Homo sapiens: one gene and its partners. The protein of the gene in region 3 interacts with the protein of the main gene of each other region in a pairwise test. Each region holds a gene or a part of one and is shown on either strand. Other genes may lie near its edges.

What was found.
Region 1: the proteins of GEMIN2 (region 3) and KPNA6 interact in binary tests that used the Homo sapiens proteins (3 or more experiments, as listed by UniProt).
Region 2: the proteins of GEMIN2 (region 3) and MEOX1 interact in binary tests that used the Homo sapiens proteins (3 or more experiments, as listed by UniProt).

What each region holds. Positions count from the first base shown.
Region 1 is NC_000001.11:32,105,633-32,109,382, reverse strand, and holds the start of KPNA6 (importin subunit alpha-7), read right to left. Parts: upstream 1,328-3,750; 5' UTR 1,253-1,327; coding exon 1,249-1,252; intron 1-1,248. UniProt on the Homo sapiens protein: Functions in nuclear protein import as an adapter protein for nuclear receptor KPNB1. Binds specifically and directly to substrates containing either a simple or bipartite NLS motif.
Region 2 is NC_000017.11:43,655,251-43,659,000, forward strand, and holds part of MEOX1 (homeobox protein MOX-1), read right to left. Parts: intron 1-3,750. UniProt on the Homo sapiens protein: Mesodermal transcription factor that plays a key role in somitogenesis and is specifically required for sclerotome development. Required for maintenance of the sclerotome polarity and formation of the cranio-cervical joints.
Region 3 is NC_000014.9:39,117,222-39,120,971, reverse strand, and holds part of GEMIN2 (gem-associated protein 2), read right to left. Parts: intron 2,974-3,750; coding exon 2,884-2,973; intron 2,433-2,883; coding exon 2,373-2,432; intron 1-2,372. UniProt on the Homo sapiens protein: The SMN complex catalyzes the assembly of small nuclear ribonucleoproteins (snRNPs), the building blocks of the spliceosome, and thereby plays an important role in the splicing of cellular pre-mRNAs.

The DNA of each region.
Region 1 (3,750 bases), on a different chromosome or scaffold from region 3:
CTGGCCAACATGACGAAACCCTGTCTCTACCAAAAACACACAAAAATCAGCCGGGCGTGGTGGTGGGTGCCTGTAATCCCAGCTACTCGGGAGGCTGAGGCAGGAGAATCGCTTGAACCCGGGAGGCAGGAGGTTGCAGTGAGCCGAGATCGCGTCACTGCACTCCAGCCTGGGCGACAGAGCAAGACTCTATCAACAACAACAACAAACAGCAGTTACAAACTAGGCTTGGGAGTGTTCACCCTGGCTTAGCCACTGCATGACCTTGGGTAAGTTACTTTACCTCTCTAAAGCTCAGCTTCCACATCTGTAAAATGGCAATGGTAGCATCTATTTCCTTAGGTTGTACAAATTAAGTAAAACAAGACATGTAAAGCAATCAGAACAATGCCCGTACGTAGAAAGAGCTTAGCAAATTTCACAATTTTTACTGCTTTAGAGGAATTACCACTGTTGGTTCTGTCTCTAAATCCAAAGACTTCGCCATGGTATTCTCTCTGAACAGAGGCCTTGCCAGCCGGAGTCCCCTCAGAAAGATCAACAGGTCGCTCCTTTTCTCCTTACCAGGGCCAGCCCAGAAACCTAAAGTCCTCAACCTAAAGATGGCCAAGAGGACTTGGCCTTTGGTGTTCTACCATCACAAGCGATGCCACTCTGAGCCCAACCGAACCACACTATTTCCGCCTTGATTCCGTTCTCCCGGCCTTCAGCGGCGCAAGCTGCCCTCGGCCTGGCTGCCCATGCTTACCGGCCTAGTGCTGGCTCGCCTGACGTCCCCTCACTAGAGGACTCCACCTCGCTACGTAGGTAGGACTTCCCTGAGTTCAGGGGAGCCACTGAATCTAGTCAAGACACGCGTTGGCCAAACACAACCCAGGAGAAAGCTACCTTAGCGCCGCCCAGGCCTGCCGCCGGGAGCCCGTCCCCCAGCCCCAGTCTGGGCGCAGGACAGAGAGTAGGCCCCTTTCTACCTCCCAGGAACACGTGGGCTCCTGCCCGAGGCCACCATGTGGGGGGCTCCAGGCGTGCCAAGGTGTCCCCGAAACCAGCACCAAAGGACTGCTTCCAGCACGGGCCCTAGCTCGGCCCAAAACTGGCAAGAGGGGCACTCCCGGCCTGACTTTTCCCCTCAGACCTAGCTAGAGGGGATGCAGACATCTTCCGCAGACCGGAGACAGGCTCTCGCCAAATCCCAGGCCCCGACACTCCCTGAGCCCAAGAACCCTACTGCGTGGTTTCCTCACTCACCCATCGCGGGTCCGCTCGCTCACTCTTGGCGGCGGAGGCAACGGCGGCAGCTTCAGCGGCAGCTTTCAGTAGACAATATGGCGGATCTGTAGGACGGCAGCCCGAAAGGGACAAACCAGTTAACTCCAGGACGAAACGCTTTATTGGCCCAATCGCCTATCATTACACCGAAAGTGCGCACTTAAAGAGACCGCAGCTACTAAAGGTGGGGAGTGGAAATGAAATAGGAAAGGAGTGGTTGGGAGGAGACTGGAAGGGATACCTAAGAAAGTTAAGTGTGTCTAGGAGTTCCCAGCTGTTTCTGCTACTATTTCTTTTTTATAGTGAGATTTCTTTACCCGGAACTTTTTCTCCCAGAAGCTTATCCCTCCTTTTTTTTTTTTTTTTTTTTTTTTTTTTTTTGAGACGCAGTCTCGCTCTTGTCCCCCCAGGCTGGAGTGCGATGGCGCGATCTCGGCTCACTGCACACTCTGCCTCCCGAGTTCAAGCGATTCTCCTGCCTCGGCCCCCCGAGTAGCTGGGATTACAGGCGCCTGCCACCACGCCTGGCTAATTTTTGTATTTTTACTAGAGACGGTGTTTCAACCATGTTGGCTAGGCTGGTCTTGAACTCCTTACCTCAGGTGATCCGCCCGCCCCCAAAGTGCTGGGATTACAGGCTTGAGCCACCGCTCCGGGCCAGTTTATCCCTTCTTCTAATAGTTGAAACCAATCGGCTGGGCGCTGTGGCTCACGCCTGTAATCCCAGCACTTTGGGTAGGCCGAGGCGGGCGGATCACCTGAGATCAGGAGTTCGAGACCAGCCTGCCCATGGTCTCTACTAAAAATACAAAAATTAGCTGGGTGTGGTGGCGCATGCCTGTAATCTACTTGGGAGGCTGAGGCAGGAGAATTGCTTTAACCCGGGAGGCAGAGGTTGCAGTGAGCCGAGATTGTGCCACTGCATTCCAGCCTGGGAGACAAGAGCAAAACTCCGTCTCTAAAAACAAAAACAGCAATCATAGACCTTGGGCTGAATATGAACAACGAATCATCTAGAGAGGGGAAGTGCCTTGCTCAATGAGGCTATGGAGAGAAGGAAACAAAGAAGTAAGACTAAACTCAGGTTTTCTGATTAGGCCTACGTAGGTAGCCCTAGTTGAGGTTGCAATCTTATTGGGAGATGAGAAATAGAAAAATAGGGCTGGGTGTGGTGGTTCACGCTTGTCTATAATCCTAACACTTTGGGAAGCTGAGGCCAGAGAATCACTTGAGGCCAGGAGCTCAAGACCAGACTGGGCAACACAGTGAGACCCCATCTCCACAAAAAATAAATTAAAAGAAAAAAATTAGCCAGGCATGGTAATGAGCACTTGTACTTGGGCGGCTGAGGCGAGAGGATCACTTGAGTCCGGGAGGTCAAGGCTGCAGTGCCATGACTGTGTCACTATACTCCAGGTTGGGTGATAGAGTGAGACCCTGTCTCTAAAAAAAAAAAAAAGAGAGAGAGAGAGAGAGAAAGAAATGGGCTGGACATGGTGGCTCATTCCTGTAATCCCAGCATTTTAGGAGGCTGAGGCGGCAGATTGCTTGAGCCCAAGAGTTCGAGACCAGCCTGGGCAACATAGCAAGATCCCCCGTCTCTAAAAAAAAAAAAGAAAAACAATGAGACCCATGCAGTATAGTTAACAGAGTGATTTCATAATCATTTCATTTATCCTCACAGCAAGCTCCTTGAAGGCAGGGGTGGGTTCTATATTGTTTACCACCGTATCTCCAGCACCTAGCACAGAATCTGGCACATTGTGTGTGCTCCATAAATAACTATTGAATGAATAAACAAAGGAATGAACAAAAAATTGAGTTACACAGAGCAAGGGACATGATCTCCCCTTTTAGAGATGAGGAAATTGAGGCTTTTATTGTTCATATGCCTTTTCAATCACGGGACGTATGGCTAGTACATATCAGGCCTTTCTTTTTCCATGACATGGCAGCCCTCCTGTCCCCCACCTCGACACACAGAGCCAGGCTATATCTTCAAGACACAGAGGGATCTATCTTCTGGAAGCAGAACAAGGGCCTGTCACAACAAACTGCCAACTTTAGTTGTGCGCCTGGCCCATTTTCTTGAGGCAAAGAAATCAAAAGGAAAACTCTAGGATGAAGGTCAGGAAGGGGCGCACTTTATTTCCCTTCCTACTGCCCCTGCTTAAGGTGAGACCTCATCACTTTGCCCTGTTCTGTTTTGCCTGCCTCCTCTCTGGCCTCCTGCCTCCAGACTCTCCGGCTCCCACCCACTATCTCCTGAAAAGCAGAGACCTATAATCTCAGCTACTGGGAAGGCTGAGGTGGGAGAATTGCTTGAGCCCAGGAGTTCAAGACCAGCCTGGGCAACACAGAGAAACCTGTCTCATTAAAAAAAAAAAAAAAAAAGAAAAAAAAAAAGAAAAAAAAAAGCAGAAACCTTACAGTGTAACTCTTCTGCTTAGCAACTTCCTACTGCCTGCCCTTAGGTAATGC
Region 2 (3,750 bases), on a different chromosome or scaffold from region 3:
TCACAAGGTCAAGAAATTGAGACTATCCTGGCCAACATGGTGAAACCCCGTCTCTATTAAAAATACAAAAATTAGCTGGGCGTGGTGGCGTGTGCCTGTAGTCCCAGCTACTTGGGAGGCTGAGGCAGGAGAATCACTTGAATACGGGAGGCGGAGGTTGCAGTGAGCCGAGATCGCGCCACTGCACTCCAGCCTGGCAACAGAGTGAGACTCCGTCTCAAAAAAAAAAAAAAGAAGAAAGAAATTTGGTATATCCATACAATGGAATGTTATTGTCTTCAGAAAGAAGGAGGCCAGGCATGGTGGCTCACACCTATAATTCCAGCACTTTGGGAGGCCAAGGTGGGAGGACTGCTAGAAGCCCTGAGTTCAACACCTGCCTCGGCAGCATAGCAAGACCCTGTCTTTCTAAAAAAAAAAAAAAAAAAAAAAAAAAGAAGAAAATCCTGTCACTTGCTACAACCTGGTTGAAACTTGAGGACATTATGCCAAGTGACATAAGCCAGTCACAAAAATGACAAACATTGCATGATTTCACTTATGTAAGGTATCTAAAATAGTCAAATGTTTAGCAAGAGAAAGAATGGTGATTGCTAGGGGGTGGGGGAAGGGAAAAAAGGTCGTTGTTTAATGGAGATAGAGTTTCGGTTTTGCAAGATTAAAAGTTCTAGAAATCGATTGCACAACTACTGTACTGTATCACTTAAAAACTGTTAAGACGGTAACTTTTATGTTATGTGTATTTGACCCCAATTTTTAAAAAAGGAGATTTCAAATATAAGATGTCCCAGGTAAGAAACCTCAGAAGAGTTCCTTTATGAAACAACTGCAAGCTAAAGTGAGAAAATCAACACAGATTCTAGCAGATACTAGACTTCGACATTTCTTAACTGTAGCTTTCTTTGATACTATGTTATATGCAAATGTAGCTATAAATTTTTGAAAAAGAAGAACAAAAATATTCTTGGAAGGGGTTGTTTTTGAGCTGGGTGGTTTTTAAGTAGGACTTCAACAGGCAGAAGTACGGGGAAGGGGAGAGTGCTCTAGGCAAGGAGAAACCACCAGAGCACAGTCAGAGAGGGGGAAGAAAATGCAGGATGTGTTTGCAAGGTCAGTCCCTGGGTGTGGCTTCGTGGCAGGGGTAGTGGAGGGGACCTGGGGCGGGGAGGTGGCCTGTAAAGGGGCATCAGGAGGGAAAAGAGGAGAGAGGCCTATTTGTGGAGTTTTATACCTTAGGCAAATTTGTGGTTGGGCGGAGGCAGGCATAGAGCAGGTCTTGCAAAGAGAAATTGGGGCAGGACAGCTCTGGGAACACACGTGTTGGAGCTGAAGAAGGATGAGACAAATCACGTCTGATTAAAGGCATGTCTCAGCAGAGTGAGGACGTGAGAGCAGGAGGGAGCAGTGCTGAGTTCTAGCACCATGGCTTTCCCAGGCGGGCGATCGGATTCACCTGTAGCCACTCTAATCACACGCAACCTTCCCTTGAACCCCATGAGGAAACCACCGCAAAATCCTTCATTCCCATAAATTAAAGACAACCACAGTAGCAAGGACAGTTTGGGGGAAAACAACAGTGGCCTCACAGCTGTCCCTGCCAGCAGGGGTCTTTAATCCCCATTGGCCTGGGGCTGGGAGTGGTTTGGGTAAGATAACACCATGCTGGTCTCCAGGGTGGGGAAGTGCCAAAGGCCAGGAACCCTGCTTTCTTTCTTTCTCCCCGTTTGTTCATTTTCTTTCTTTCTTTTTCTTTCTTTCTTTCTCTTTCTTTCTTTCTTTCTTTCTTTCTTTCTTTCTTTCTTTCTTTCCTTCCTTCCTTCTTTCTTTCTTTTCTTTCTTTCTTTTTCTTTCTCTCTTTTTCTCTCTGTCTCCTTCCTTCCTTCCTTTCTTCCTTTCTCTCTCTCTTTCTTTCTTTCTTTCTTTTTTTTTTTTTTTTTTGATGTAGTCCCGCTCTGTCACCCAGGCTGAATGAAGTGCAGTGGCGTGATCTCTGCTCACTGCAATCTCCACCTCCCAAGTTCAAGCTATTCTCCTGCCTCAGCTTCCCAAGTAGCTGGGATTTACAGGTGCCTGCCACCACACCTGGCTAATTTTTTTTTTTTTTTTTTGTATTTTTAGTAGAGATAGGGTTTCACCATGTTGGCCAGGTCAGTCTTGAACTCCTGGCCTCAGGTGATCCGCCTGGCTCAGCCTCCCAAAGTGCTGGGATTATAGGCATGAGCCACCGCGCCCGGCCAACCCTTGCTTTCTTGATAATTTCTTTGAGTAGATCAGCTCCAGATTCTACTGGGAGTGAGCGGGGAGCAGTTGAAGGAGATGGCAAAGGAGGAAGGAAGCGCAGAGAACATTCCTCTTACAATAAACTTTCCATTTCTGGAGGCTTCTCAGCCACTCAATATGGGGTGCATTTGCCAGGCCCAACTCACCCCATAACCTCTCCGGCAGGTCTCTGAGCTCCATGCTCCTGATGACAACTGGAACAAAATGATTGCCAGAAGTTCTCTAGACTCAGGAATTTCTGAGACAGCATAATTGAAATATTCAATTCCACCATCCCCATAAATATAGAAATATTTGTCAGACCTTATATTCTGAAGGCTGGTTCAGGAAATATGGGCCTAATACCATTTACAGCTGCTATTTATTGAACTCTTACTATGTGCCAGGCACAGAGTTAATCTCATGGATCACTGCATCTAACCTTCACAGAGAGACTCTCTATGGAAGGGGCTACTGCTATATGCCCATTTTACAGCCAGGGAAACAAAGGCTGGAAGAAGTTATGAACTTTTCCAAAGTCATGCAGCCAAAAGTTGCCGTGCTGACACTGCAGCCTGTCTGTCTGGCTGGGAAGAACTATGGAAAACGCGTTTCTGATCAATGCTGGTTAACCTTCCAGGGACCACTCAGCCTGGACTTGGGGAGGCCCAAATGCAAGGGCATGCCCAACCCCTCTGTAGTCAAGATCAATAATATTTTAAGGAAGGCCGGGCACGGTGGCGCATGCCAGCACTTTGGGAGGCCGAGGTGGGCTGATCACGAGGTCAGGAGTTTGAGACCATCCTGACCAACATGGTAAAACCCCGACTCTACTAAAAATACAAAAATTAGCCGGGAGAGGGGGCGTGCGCCTATAATCCCAGCTACTCAGGAGGCTGAGACAGGAGAATTGCTTGAACCCAAGGGGCAGAGGTTGCAGTGAATTGAAACTATGCCACTGCACTCCAGCATGGGCGTTAGAGTGAGACTCCATCTCAAAAAAAAAAAAAAAAGAATATTTTAAGGCAATATTTGTAAAAATCAAAAGTAATGCAAAAAATTGATAATGAACAAAATATCACAATTTTGGAGAGGGGATCCAATTATAGACTCAGGATTGGCAGGGTTGGGTGGGGGGCTCTCTGTGGGTTTGCCTTTTCTGAGCTGAATTCCAGATTCCTGGAGTAGGTCATGAGCCTTGCGTCACTTTCCCCCTTCTTTGGGCTCTTACAAAGCTGATCTTTCTTGCCTCCTTCCTCCCCTTCAGTTAAATTCCAAAGGAGGATGCAAGCATTGCGGCAATAAAGATTTCCATGCTGAACAGTGAGTTTGTCTGGAATCACAGGGGGATGAGTGAGAGTCAGCTCACTGGGCCCTGCCTCATCTGCTGCTGGTGCTCCTGAGGGGACCCTTAGGGAAGCCCAGGGCCCCTGCGGATGGGAACCTCCCTCCACCAAAGTCTGACCCTGAAGCATGCAGGCCGTTCAGCCG
Region 3 (3,750 bases):
CTTAACAAAATAACCTTTGTTTGTACATATCACCTTGTATATTACTTTGCATAGGTGCATTTTCCCCCTAGGGATAAGTAGCTTTCATTAAATCCTTAGGATGAATCACCTGAGGTCAGGAGTTCGAGACTAGCCTGGAAATATGGTGAAACCCCGTCTCTACTAAAAATACAAAAATTAGCTGGGTGTGGTGGCAGGCACCTGTAATCCCAGCTACTTGGGAGGCTGAGGCAGGAGAATTGCTTGAATCCAAGAGACAGAGGTTGCAGTGAGCCAAGATTGTGCCACTGCACTCCAGACTGGGCAACAAGAGCAAAACTCCATCTCAAAAAAATAAATAAAATAAAATAAAATAAAATAAAACCTCACGATGAACATGAGACCACTACAAAGTTAAACCCTATTGTCTTGGAATAAGGTTATCTACCTTTTCCTAACACTCTATTAGGTCAGAAGCTGTTTCTGTTTCAGTTAGTACTGAATATCCTGATTATTAAATATAGCACATGCTTAAATTATTGGATCAATTAATAAACAAATGTTTATGTTTTCACACAGTTGCCATCACAGTGTACTTTATTTTTTAAATAATTTAAATAGAGACAGGGTTTTGCCATGTTGCCCAGGCTGGTCTCGAACTCCTGAGCTCAGGTGATCTGCCCACCTCAGCCTCCCAAAGTGCTGGGATTATAGGCATGAGCCACTGTGCCTGGCTCAGAGTGTACTTTAAAACATTTTCATTTTATTACTTATATGATGTTTGCATTTGCCATGACAAACACTTAAAATTGCTACATAATATTCCACTGTTCTGATGGACCATAGTTTATTGAATCAATTATGTTAGGTCATTTCCATTTTTGACAAAATTTTATCAAGTCATAATGTTACTGATGTGGCTTCTTTTTTAGTTAGTGGGCATGCACCCAAAAGGCCTTCCGCTAAGTAAGAAAAAAAATATATTTACCTACCTAGCCCTGTCCCTACTACATACATACATCCTTGGTACTAGGAAGGCACCATTGCATAGTCAAAGGCACACAGGCTTTAGAGACAGACCAACTTGGGTTTGAACCTTAAGCATACCTTTTGTGTGTTTATGTGCGCATGCTTCTTTGATAGAAGGACTAGCTATACCTTTTACAAGTTAAATGACCATTGGCAAGTGATAAGTTACTTCCCTTCACGCTTTTCCTGGAGCAGAGCTTCCAAATGGTATGCAGAAGCATACAGAGATGCCATATACTGAATCTCTCAGCTTTCGGCTGGTTTCAGGAAGAATATGCAAGCAGTCATTTATTCTAATGTGTCACCATGTAAAAGATATCAGGAAGCACTGCCTAAAGGAAGCTTCTAAAATCTAAAATCTATGAACTACCTGAAACTAAAATGTTGTGCATAGGTGCATTTTTTTTCCCTCTGAAGATAAATAGCTTTCATTAGATTCTACGAAAGAATATGAAGTCCCCTAAAAGGTTAAAAACTACTGTCCTGAGACAATGTATCATCTTTCCAACTCCTTTTTTCATTTGGTAGTCCTGATATATCTACTAAAGGGCTTAAAGTTATATCTAAACTGATAAAATATAGGACATATGCATGACAATATACATGACAGGTTTCACTTATATGTCACTGGAATTGTGACACAGACTCATCACATTAAGCAGAAGCAGAATCCATTCACAAGTTCTGTAAACATGTGAGTTTACTGCATGGCACCATCACCTCATCAGGAAAATCCATTAAGGCTTTATTCAATTTTTTTTGTAAATATTGAAAATGTATTTATTTCCTAGAAAGTAAATGTCTAGAAGAATCCTTAAAAACTTGTGGAAGTTTCACAGTCACCTATCCAAAGTCCCCCAAGATATTGTGAATTAAAATTGACATGAAAGGCTGGGTACAGTAGCTCATGCCTGTAATCCAGCACTCGGGGAGGCTAGGGCAGGAGGATCACTTGAGCCCAGGAGTAAGAGACCAGCCTGGGTAACACAGGGAGACCTTGTCTCTACAAAAAATTTTAACAATTAGCTGGGCATGGTGGTATATGCCTTAAGTTCGAGCTACTTGGAAGGCGGTGGTGGGAGGATCACTTGAGCCCAGGAGGTCAAGGCTGCAGTGAGCCATGACTGCACTCTAGCCTGGGAGACAGAGCAAGACCCTGTCTCAAAAAAAAAAAAAAAAAAAATTTGTCATGAAAATCTATACTTTCCAGGCTACTAATGTAATGAATTGTTACTATTAATGGTATATTGAAGAGAATGAAAGTAACACTGACTAGGCAAGTGAATCTTTAACGACTGGAAGTAAATATAGACTCTTTCAATCAGGTATACATTGTACATCTTAAAACTGAGAAACTTACATACCATTGTCACATTACTATCCAACTGTTGTGATTTCCAGTGACTTCTATGTTTGTTCACATTCTAAAGGAAGAAAACTTAGACATTAGATGGTACTCTTCAAAAAATGGATAACTGAAATCAGTTTCTGCACAAAATTGTAACCATCTAAAACTTGAAAAATGGGAAAGGTGGGAGGGGGTGAGATGTAAAAGACCATGTATTGGGTACAGAGTACACTACTTGGGTGACAAGTGCACCAAAATCTCAGAAATCACCACTAAAGAACTTATCCATGTAACCAAAAACCACCTGTTCCCCAAAACTATTGAAATAAATAAACAAACAAATAAAAATAAACAAAACTTAGAAAATATTTCAAACTGTATCATGTCTAATGATTATAAAAATAATTTGGTAATTAATTCATGAATATTCTGTATACTTTAGGATCATAAATTTTATTTTTCCAGCTACAGTCTAAGAACAGAAATAAATCCAACAGGGGCTTAATTAGATTAAATATGACACTTACCTGTCGAACAGTTGAAAACTGTGCCACTTGTTGCTGTTGCCATTGAAGTGTTGGGGAATAACCTTCAGGGGCGGGTTGGCATCCTGAAAGCTAGAGATCAAGTTCACAAATATTAGGATCAACATTAGTGTCAAAACTAGAATCTCATGCCTCTGCAAAGCAAAAGTAAAACCAAGATAAAGTGTATAATAAAATAAAGATTATACAAGAAAATAAAATATTTTTGCAGATGTAAAAAAGTAGGCATTTCACTTTATTATTTATATCTCAGTTAAAAATATTAGGGAAAGAGCCTTAGTCACCTTAATCAGAGAAATCTGGAAAGGTTTATAGTTGGAGTTTCTATGAAATCTAAATGACATGAGCCTGGAGAATATGATCTAGCCCTACCTGCCTTTCTAGAATAGCAAAACAGAAACAAAAAGAGAGATATACCACAAATAAAGAATTCTGGTATGAAATACAGTTAGAAGGAATGAGTTCTAGCATTCAATAGCACAGTAGAGTGACTACAGTTAACAATAATTTATTGTATATTTCAAAACAGCTAGAAGATTTGAATGTTCCCAAAAGAAAGAAATGATAAATGAGGTGATGGCTATCCTAATTACTGATTATTATACATTGTATGCATGTATCAAAATATCACATATACTCCATAAATATGTACAATTATTATTGTGCCTGCGTGATAAAGCATGAAATTATGATTATTATGTATCAATAAAATTAAAAATAAGAACTTTGGTATGGGCAAAATGTACTTAAAGACGCTTAACTTTAAATTGTCTACTTCTGTTTTCTTTTTTTTTTTTTTTGAGACGGAGTTTCGCTCCTGTTGCTCAGGCTGGAGTGCAATGGCCATCT